2 separate regions of the Homo sapiens genome follow, and region 1 is linked to region 2. Evidence: fine-mapped expression QTL. A gene starts in region 2. The other region holds a variant in brackets. All regions are shown on one strand. Distances are between the middles of the regions.

Region 1 (5,373 bases), 52 kb before region 2:
TCGGGAGCATATTATGGCAGTGGAACTCCATCTAGTTTCCCCACTGTCTCTCTTGTAGACAGAACTTTGGTGGAATCTGTAACCCAGGCTCCAACAGCCCAAGAGGCAGGAGAAGGGCCTTCTGGCATTTTAGAACTCAGTGGTGCTCATTCTGGAGCACCAGACATGTCTGGGGAGCATTCTGGATTTCTGGACCTAAGTGGGCTGCAGTCCGGGCTGATAGAGCCCAGCGGAGAGCCACCAGGTACTCCATATTTTAGTGGGGATTTTGCCAGCACCACCAATGTAAGTGGAGAATCCTCTGTAGCCATGGGCACCAGTGGAGAGGCCTCAGGACTTCCAGAAGTTACTTTAATCACTTCTGAGTTCGTGGAGGGTGTTACTGAACCAACTATTTCTCAGGAACTAGGCCAAAGGCCCCCTGTGACACACACACCCCAGCTTTTTGAGTCCAGTGGAAAAGTCTCCACAGCTGGGGACATTAGTGGAGCTACCCCAGTGCTCCCTGGGTCTGGAGTAGAAGTATCATCAGTCCCAGAATCTAGCAGTGAGACGTCCGCCTATCCTGAAGCTGGGTTCGGGGCATCTGCCGCCCCTGAGGCCAGCAGAGAAGATTCTGGGTCCCCTGATCTGAGTGAAACCACCTCTGCATTCCACGAAGCTAACCTTGAGAGATCCTCTGGCCTAGGAGTGAGCGGCAGCACTTTGACATTTCAAGAAGGCGAGGCGTCCGCTGCCCCAGAAGTGAGTGGAGAATCCACCACCACCAGTGATGTGGGGACAGAGGCACCAGGCTTGCCTTCAGCCACTCCCACGGCTTCTGGAGACAGGACTGAAATCAGCGGAGACCTGTCTGGTCACACCTCGCAGCTGGGCGTTGTCATCAGCACCAGCATCCCAGAGTCTGAGTGGACCCAGCAGACCCAGCGCCCTGCAGAGACGCATCTAGAAATTGAGTCCTCAAGCCTCCTGTACTCAGGAGAAGAGACTCACACAGTCGAAACAGCCACCTCCCCAACAGATGCTTCCATCCCAGCTTCTCCGGAATGGAAACGTGAATCAGAATCAACTGCTGCAGGTATTGTGATTTTTTCCCCCTTTAAATGTGCTTAGGTAGTTCAGACTGTAGCCTACTGCAGCACAGAAGGAGGCAGCATAGCTTTAAGGTTCCAAGAACAACTCCACCAAAGGTTAGCTGTGCAGCCTCAGGCAATAGTCTTCCCCTCTCTGAGCCTCATCTGTAACGTAAGAGTAGGATAATACTCTACCAGGGAAGATTAGGCAGAACATAAACATAGATAGATAAAGCAAGCACTTAGCATCACGCTCTGCATGCAGTGCACACTTGTAAAGATGAGTGATGTTATCGTTACAGCGGAGTTACAGTCCGTGAGTTTTTACACGTGAATTCAACTATCTGTACTTGGCACAGGGAGAGAAGGATGACTGTCTAGATAGTGCTAGAAATTCTGCTCATGCACCCTGCCCCGGAGTGAGTGTAAGATGAGAGAGTAAATCTGCTGATGGTGTTTATGTCTGAATATTTATTTTGTGCAGGGTTAAAACCTGCACAACTTAAGGAACTATGAAGTGTCATTTGGCTATCTGGTTTTAGATTCTGCATCCCCAACCCCATCCGTGTACAAAGGGGCTCCTGTACTATCATGATTGTCTCACCGTGACATAACTCCAAGTGCCGGGCAGCGGGCACTGGTAGCGGTAGCTGATTTTCCTTTTTTTTTTTTTTTTTTTTTGCTCTGGGGTCCCTTGTACCTTCCTTTGTGCTGAGAGAGCTTTCACAGCTAGAGAGCTCCCCCCGATGCTGTGGGCCAGGTGCCCAGGAGGGACAGAGGCCTCAGAAAAGTGCTGACCCAAAGCCAGCCTCGTGGACTTCAGGAACCTCATGCCCCAACTTTGAGGTCTTGGAGGCCATGGTAGCCAGGTGACTGTGTTCTTGATGCTCAACCTCTCCCCTGGGGGTTGCAGCCCCCGCCAGGTCCTGTGCAGAGGAGCCCTGTGGAGCTGGGACCTGCAAGGAGACAGAGGGACACGTCATATGCCTGTGCCCCCCTGGCTACACTGGCGAGCACTGTAACATAGGTAAGGCCCTCATTGGCCGTGGAGAGTGAGGGCGGAGGCGCTGGACAGACTTCTTCATCCCCCAAAGGGTCCCCAGGTGGGAGGAGGCAACCAAGGTCCACTGAGGCTCAGGCTGGGAAGGAGCTGCATGATGACATGTCAGGGGCAGAAGCCACAGGACAGACATGGCTTATCTTTCTCGAATGTCTAGGTTTAGGAGAAAAGAGTCAAGTAATTAAGTTGCTAAGTATTTTTATATCAGGCTGATGACTATTGTAGGAGTAGAATGAAAAATGTGCTTGAATTTTGGAGATGAGACTTCAAAGAAATATCGAGCATGGGGTGAGTATTAAATACAGCGGGTCACACCTCTCCGCTCCTGGTGAGGAGTGTCTGAGTGGGGCCATCTTGTATCGTGCAGAGTGAACCCCACCAAGTTGCCTCCATGCTTGGGTCTGCGTGGGGTTTGGGTCCCCTTCTTGCCCTGAAGGAAATGACACAAACAACGGTAATCACCCAGCACAGGGATTCGTGGATGTAGGGCAGCTGTAACCCAGCAGCACGTCTGCCCAGGCACCCACCATGAGCCTGTTTGTCCTTAGCTATGGGTGAAGCAGCCTGTGGGATGGGTGGAGAGGCTGGGGACCCTCTGATCTGAGGTGGACCCCGGAAGGAGATGGTTAGAATCTACCTGTTGTTCCACGGACACACGGGAGGCCCGTGGTCATGAGGACATCTCATCTCATCTTATCAACATCACC[AC/A]CTTGAGGAAAGAAATGCCCAGTTACCACCAAGCTCATGTTCTTTCATTAGTTCTCCCACTAACCCCAGTGCCCTTATCCCCAGCCTCCCTCCTAGGTCAAGAATCAGAGACCTAGGGTCTTTCATAAAAGGGGTCACTCCTAGGACATGTGCAAAAATGAAAAAACGAATCCTGGAGAAAAAACAATCACTTCCACGTAAACCTCATGTCGGGCAATTATCCTTCGATAGCCTTTACATCAAACACAGAGAAGAATTCTGTGTCTATATATATTAATATACATGCAAATTAATACATCATTATATATTATTATATATCATATAAACATGCTGTATACATGGTACATATGCAGTAACTATATATGTATATATAAACAGACGTTAGGGTAGATATTCATTCACTCTTTCCCCAACGTGTGGGCTGCAAGGACAGAGAGGGTGGGCTATCCTGGGAAGGTCCCGGGCTTACTGCAGAAGGGGACAGCATTTCCACTGGGCCATAGTGACCCCAGGGACCATAGCTGCACCCCACCATCACTCACCCCTGATGGGTGACTCCACTCTTGGGAAATCCTTCTTAACCTGATACTTGAGGCAAAAATCTGACACTAGCATCAGAAGTCAAAGCAAGGCTCATGTTCTTGGCAGCCCTGAAATTAATAGGAGTAAGTGTCAGTGGGCCGTAACTATTCTGCTGTAAGGACAGCCTCTCTGTGATCATGTATATTTCCACAGGGCTTTTGTTCCCACGATTTCTCCCCAGATGGCTCTGTAAGCAGCTTGGTAACTACCCCCATTTGAGACTGGAACTCAGAGGAGTTAAGTAATTTGCCTAACTATACTGAGTAAGTGGATTGAATCAAGAATCAAGACCTTAATTCACGTGTTTAACACACTCGGCTAAATAAGAAACTCCCTCTTGAACATAACAACCAGTTGCTGGTCTCAAAAAACTGAAGCTGGACTTCAGGGGAGCCAGAATGGGGAGGAGCTGAGGAATCTGAGGTGGTCGGATTCAAGACTTGCAGCCCAGCCTTCATTTTCCTCATTTGTAAACAGGGATCGATGGTAATGGTTCTCAGCTTTGAAAAATTATGATGCCTGAGATCTACCCCCACAGATTGTGATTGAAGTGGTTCTGTGGCCTTGGCATTGAGGTTTTTAAAACTCCCAGGCGACTCCAATGTGCAGCCAGGACTGAGAACCGCTGCTGTGAGGGTGAAGATCACCCATGTACAACATCTGGTCAGAAGAGGCATTTAATAAAAATTGCTTCCCTTTCCCCATCTCTCACTCTACTGGCTAAGAGAAGCTTTAGCATCTCCAAAGAGTGAGTGGTGGGGATCAGCCCAGCACAAAACCTGGGTCTCTTTTCCCATGACTGTACCTTGGGGTCCCAGGTCACTCTTGTTCAACTTAGCTCAAGGTTCAAGTGCTTCCAGAAGGACTGCAGATAGTGGCCAGTCTTCACGGGTGACCCACGATTGTCTTGCACCACAATCAGGAACTACAGGTTGTTAAAAAGACCACGGATCGGCCAGGTGCAGTGGCTCATGCCTGTAATCCCAGCACTTTGGGAGGCCAAGGCGGATGGATTGCCTGAGGTCAGGAGTTCGAAACCAGCCTAATCAATATGGTGAAACCCCATCTCTACTAAAAATACAAAAATTAGCTTGGTGTGGTGGCGCACCCCTGTAATCCTAGCTACTCGGGAGGCTGAGGCAGGAGAACTGTTTGAACCCAGGAGGCGGAGGTTGCAGTGAGCCGAGATTGTTGCACTGCACTCCAGCCTGGGTGACAGAGTGACACTCGGTCTCAAAAAAAAAAAAAAAAAAAAGAAACAAGACCATGGATCAGTATCCTCGGGGGGCCATAGGGAGCAAAATGCAGCATGATTCCTGCAGTAATATTTGAATCCTCAGGGAAAACTTCCACCTGGTCAAGGGGGTCAGAAGCTGTATTTAGTCCTTAAAAAAAATTGACAATTACTGTCATCTTTTTTAGTCAATCTTCCATAAATAAGTTCTTGATAAGTTATTATAAGTTATTTAGCAATTAAAAGCAAGACTATTCTATTCTGACCCACTTCAAAAACAGCAGCGTCTTTCCCCACTTCCATTACTGACATCACCCAAGGGAATTAGGCTTCAGACTCTAAGGTTTCTATCCTGGCTGCAGCTTAGAATCACCTGGAGTGCTTTTAAAAAGCATCATGCCTGGGCCCCACTCTGAGATAGTCTGATTCAATTGGTCTAAAGAGGAACTTCAGCATTGGTATTTTTAAAAAATCTTTAAATAGGAATATTTTTAAAAACTACTCCAGTAATTCTAATGTGCCAGCCAAGGATGAAAAATACTGTTCTAACCAGATCTCACATCCAATTTCCAGTCATCACTGGTGCTATGTAGCCTTCTCTTATCTCCTCTGTTAGGAGGGCACGACCTTAAACTGAATCAGTTTCCTTCCTATCTTACTGCTATTTTTCAGTTTCTAGGTTTGAAGCTCTGATCTATGACTTTCCACTCTCTCTT
Region 2 (5,373 bases):
ATTGCAAAGGAGGCCCATGAGGACTTTCAGGCAGGGGCAGTGGAAGGAAGCATTGTTCTGGCCCATTGAGCAGGTTCCGCCCACCAATTCAGGCACAGGTTGCAGTCACAGATGTCACCTCCAATGGCAGCCCTGACTCAGGAACAGCACGATGATCATCCAGGAAACACTGGGAGGGCCAATGACCATGCTAGGCCCCCGAGACAGAGAAATCAGATGCAGCGCAGGCCTCAAGAAGCCAAGGGGAAAGAGGCCAGCAAGTCCACAGATGAGGAAGATTGCCCAACGCTCCAGAAGCCTGCATGGACCGTCACTGGAGGCATGATTTCTGCTGGGGAATTAGAAGTTCCCCAGAGGAGGGAATATTTGAGCTGGGTCTAGAAGACAAAGTAAGGGGGGTGCCAGACTGGGCAATGAGTAAAGAATGTTCCAAGAAAAGCAGATGCACAGAGGGTGTGGTATGTTGGAGCACAGTTAGATGCAGCTGGAAGGGTAGGCTGGGGCCAGACTGGGAGGGATCTGAAGAATGACAAGTTTAGTTTTTCATCCCGTAGAGCAGTGGCTTTTAACCTTCCTTCACCCTCCTCACCATTGTCCACCAGGGGGGAGAAAAAATAAAAATAAAATAAAAAACAAGAAACAAGAAACAGAGATTCTCAAGTGTGAGATGGGAGTGGGAAAGTCAGTTCCAATTGCGGGATGAAGAAGGCTGAAAAGGCCCATGTGCAGACATGCCGCTGAGCTCTCCCAGGGTGGGGAGCATCTGGTAGCTGCAGACAGGTCCCTCTGGCTGAAATGCAGAAATCCCACTGAAGAGGGTGAAGGTGGAGAGCAGGAGAGCATGGTGAGAGAGGAAGTCAGGGCAGAGGAGTGAAAAGGAAGGGTGATTTCAGAACCACCAGGGGGCAAGGGCTGGAGAGGCCACCAGGGCTTCTGGATGGGAACCTGGATGACAGATGTACACTATCAGCCCCGGTGGTGGAGAACACAGGAGAAGGAACAGGAGGGCCTGTCCTCAATCCCTTGACTCTGGTGGGTCGGCCGGGCCCAACAGGAGTCCTCTAGCCGACATTAGCATCCCAGAAGGGCTGCCCCAGACCCTACACCCAAATCTGTCATTTGGAGCAAGACATGAGACATCTTTTTGCCTTGGCCGGGCATGGTGGCTCACACCTGTAATCCCAGCACTTTGGGAGGCCGAGGTGGGAGGATCATGAGGTCAGGAGATCCAGATCATCCTGGCTAACACGGTGAAACCCCGTCTCTACTAAAAATACAAAAAATTAGCCGGGCCGGGCGTGGTGGCAGGTGCCTGTAGTCCCAGCTACTTGGGAGGCTGAGGAAAGAGAATGGCATGAACCCAGCGGGCGAAGCTTGTAGTGAGCCAAGACCGCGCCACTGCACTCCAGCCTGGGCGACACAGCAAGATTCCATCTCAAAAAGAAAAAAGAAAAAAAAAAAAACCTTTTTGCCTCCCCCTCAGAGTCACCCATCTAAGGCTGGAGAGTCCTCCTGAAATCTCAAAGCCCCTTCATCCCACTCCAGGGAAGGCAACAACACCATTAATGAGCGATCTGCCCTCAGAGCTCCCCCTCCAGGGGCCTCAGGAGCTTAAAGTGGCTCCCAAGGAGCTATTAGTCATTGGCTTTAAATAGCAGGTAATCCTTCCTCTGACCTGGCAGGCGGGGGCGAGCATTGACACAGACAGAGGCTTGGGTTGGGAATGGACTCTTCCCTCCCAACTGCACCGGCCCTCTCCCTACACTGCTCCAGGGCAAAACGGTCCAGTGGGAAAAAGGGAAAGGGAAAGGTGTACTCTACCCAGCCACGTTACCTGTGTGTAAGATAGGTATGGTGTTTCCTCCTTCTGGAAAAGGCCACATCACCCTGTATAAAAACATCTTTGGGACTTCAGAGTCCTGCTCTTTCGGGGACTTTCCAGTAACATTTGGCCAGAGTTCAGGTTGGGGGGTACAGGGAAGAGTAGAAAGGGGCTAAGAAGATCCAGCTGTCTTTCATGGTGGCCGGGGAGGGCCAGGAGCTCCCAAGTTCCTGGGAGCTTGGAGCACTCTGGAAGCTCTAGCCCCGAGGGTCAGGCAGATCACAGGACATAGGGCTGGGGCTCAGCTGTTACCTACCTTGCTTCAGTCAATCCCATTTCTATGAGAAAATGATGGAGGGGCCACCTAAAGAGTCCTGGCCCTGACTCCCTCCCAGCGCTCCACGGTGAATGGCACGGGGCATCCGCAAGTCCAGCCTGCAAGGGGCCCAGCTGGCCTCCGGAGGCCTCCTGGGAGGCGGAGGAGGACCGGGGAAGATACAGCAGCCGGCCAAGGCCGCGGGAGGGAGGGAGTCAGGAGACTCCCATCAGCAGGCAGCCCTCTTCCAAGCTCCTCGAAGCCTCTGGGTCCCCTCCCGGGCCCCACTTACGGCCTGCGTCCATTGCACCGACTCCCCGGCCCTTCCCTTATGTGACCAGGCACGGACAATTGGGAGCGCAAAAATCCAATGAACTGTCCAGCCAACTGGAGTTGGCAGGGAGATGGCCAGGACAAAGTTATCCAGACAAGACTTATCCATACTAGAGTCCTAGAATCTCCCAGGTGGAAGGGGTTCGAAAGTCAAACGCAGTTCCCTGGCCTCATTTTTCACCAGGGAAAAGAGAGGCCCGACACAGCGGATTCCTTTGTCATTATCTGTAAGCCGCATCCCTGGGGGCGGCAGGGCTGTCACCCGATGTCCCGAGTCCCAGCCCAAAAGCCCCAGCGCAGAGACAGCAGGGCCGCATCCCCCTGTCCCGCCAGGGCGCAGCGGAAGAAGCCGCCCCTCTGCCCAGCCCGGTCCCCGGGGCTTTGTCTAAGTTTGTCAACAGTGGAGGTGGAGGGCGGGCGCCGGGCAAACTTCCGAGCGGCGCGGGGAGGAGGGGCGAGGGGCAGAGGGCGGCGCGATCCACTCACCCAGGGCGACGAGGAGGCTGGGGGCGCAGAGCAGCGCGCCGCACAGCGCGGCCAGCAGGCGGGGGCGCGGCATGCTGCGGGGACGCGGGCGCTGGAATGGGCACGCTGGGCTGCTCAGACCCCGCGGGGTTCTGGCGCCTTCTCCTCTGGGACCGGAATAAATCAGGCGGCTCAGCACCTCCCACTGGCCGTGCGCTCCGCCCAAGCTGGCCAGAGGCGGACTGGGGGCGGGGCTCCGCGGCTGGGAGGGAATTGGTTGAAAGGAATTGGGGGGCGCGGGGGTGGTCCGCGATATCTGCCTCTTCCGCCACTGCCACACCGGCGTCCCGCGTCGTGCCAACGGCCGGGTCACGAGTCTTGAGTCTGTTGGGCGGGAAAAGTTCAGGAGTTTTGTTTTTAAGATTTTTAGACTTGAAAAGATGCTAACTCTTTATTCATAATCAGATAGATGCAAATTAAAACTACAATGAGCATCGTGTTTCCCTTCTCGGATCGGCAAGTATCAAGATGTTAACAAGGTTAGTGGAGGCTGTGGGGAACAGGTCCAAGCATGCTTCGCTGAAGACAGTATAAATTAGTTCAACTTCCCTAGAGGGCTATTTGGTAACACCTATCAAAACGACAAATGCTGACACCTTAAGACCTAGCATTTCCACATAGAGAGATTCATTCTACAGAAACTCCCATGTGCAAAATGACAGATATACAAAGATAGCATAGCAACATTGTCTGAAATGGTAAAATACTAAAAAAAAAAAATCAGCGAAGGTTTCTGTAAAGGGCCTAATAGAAAATGTTCTCTGATATGTAGGCCCTGAGTCTCTGTAGCAGCTATTCATCTCTGCCTTTGTTGCAAGAAAGGCACCATAGACAAAATGCGAGGAAATGGGCACCTGTTTGCCGAAAGGGAATAAAACAAAGCAAGCCTGTCACCGTTGACTTTTTACTAAATGATTTGTACTTATCATGTGCAAATATTACCTGTTTACAAATAAGTGATTTTAATAATAGTGTTTTGGCTGGGTGCGGTGGCTCACACCTGTAATCCCAGCACTTTGGGAGGCCGAGGCACGTGGAACACCTGAGGTCGGAGTTCAAGACCAGCCTGGCCAAGATGGTGAAACCCCGTCTCTACTAAAAATACAAAAATTAGCCGGGCGCAGTGGCAGGTGCCTGTAATCCCAGCTACTCGGGAGGCTGAGGCAGGAGAATCGCTTGAACCCAGGCGGCAGAGGTCCCAGTGAGCCGAGATCATGCCACTGCACTCCAGCCTGGGTGACACAGTGAGACTCTGTCTCTAATAATAATAATAATAATAATAATAATAATAATAATAATAATGCTTCAGGCTGGGAGTGGTGACTCAAGCCTGTAATGCCAGCTCTTGGGGAGGCCGAGGTAGGCATATCACTTAAGCTCAAGAGTTCGAGACCTTCCTGGGCAACATGGCAAAACCCTGTTTCTACAAAAAAAGAAATACAAAAATATTCCAGGCGCATGCCTGTAGTCCCAGCTACTCAGGAGGCTGAGGTGGGAAGATCGCTTGATCCCAAGAGGTCGAGGCTGCAGTGAGCCACGATTGCACCACTGCACTCCAGCCTGGGCAACAGAGCGAGACTGTCTCAAAAAATAATAACAATACTAATACTAATAAGTATTTAAGTCAGACTAGCCAACAAACAAAATAGAACAGTCACACATCTCCCCTCCTAGCTGTGTTGAGACCTAAGTTGGGACTAGAGTCCACTGGCAAGATGCCCTTCTTAAAATATTCAGAAGCGGGTACTGGGCGTGGTGGCTCATGCCTGTAATCCCAACATTTTAGGAGGCCGAGGCAGGCGGATCACGAGGTCAGGAGATCGAGACCATCCTGGCTAACACAGTGAAACCTCGTCTCTACTAAAAATACAAAAAAAAAATTAGCCGAGCGTGATGGTGGGTGCCTGTAGTCCCAGCTGCTCAGGAGGCTGAGGCAGGAGAATGGCGTGAGCCCGGGAGGCGGAGCTCGCAGTGAGCCGAGATCGCGCTACTGCACTCCAGCCTGGACAACAGAGCAAGACTCCGTCTTAAAAAAAAAAAAAACATATATATATATATGGGGAAAAGACATATAGGATCAACTCAATAATCACAGAAAAAGCATTTGATAATATCCAACACGTCTTCGTGATAAAACACTCAACAAACTAGAAGTGAAAGGGAGCTTCCTCAACCTGATTTTTAAAAATCTATGAAAAACCGATGGGTACAGTGGCTCACGCCTGCAATCCCAACACTCTGGGAGGCTTAGGCGGGCAGATCAGCTGAGGTCAGCAGTTCGAGACCAGCCTGACCAACATGGTGTAACCTGGTCCCTACTAAAAATACAAAAAGTAACCAGGCATGGTGGTGCACACCTGCAATCCCAGCTACTCAA

What was found. PIP is the estimated chance that this variant, and not a neighbour inherited with it, causes the effect.
Region 1: its variant is the best candidate, but not a certain one, in a credible set for the expression of MFGE8 in whole blood (TOPMed, PIP 0.53).

What each region holds. Positions count from the first base shown.
Region 1 is chr15:88,858,340-88,863,712 of GRCh38, forward strand. It overlaps ACAN (aggrecan), which reads left to right. Exons shown (of 19, transcript NM_001369268.1): 12 at 1-1,078; 13 at 1,987-2,100. Among named protein-coding and RNA genes, the nearest start is that of HAPLN3, 35 kb to the right of the region's middle. The variant AC/A (reference allele first, on the strand shown) is at 2,841.
Region 2 is chr15:88,910,290-88,915,662 of GRCh38, forward strand. It overlaps MFGE8 (milk fat globule EGF and factor V/VIII domain containing), which reads right to left and starts at 3,090. Exons shown (of 8, transcript NM_005928.4): 1 at 2,958-3,090. The coding sequence starts at 3,030. RefSeq lists an enhancer at 2,300-2,831.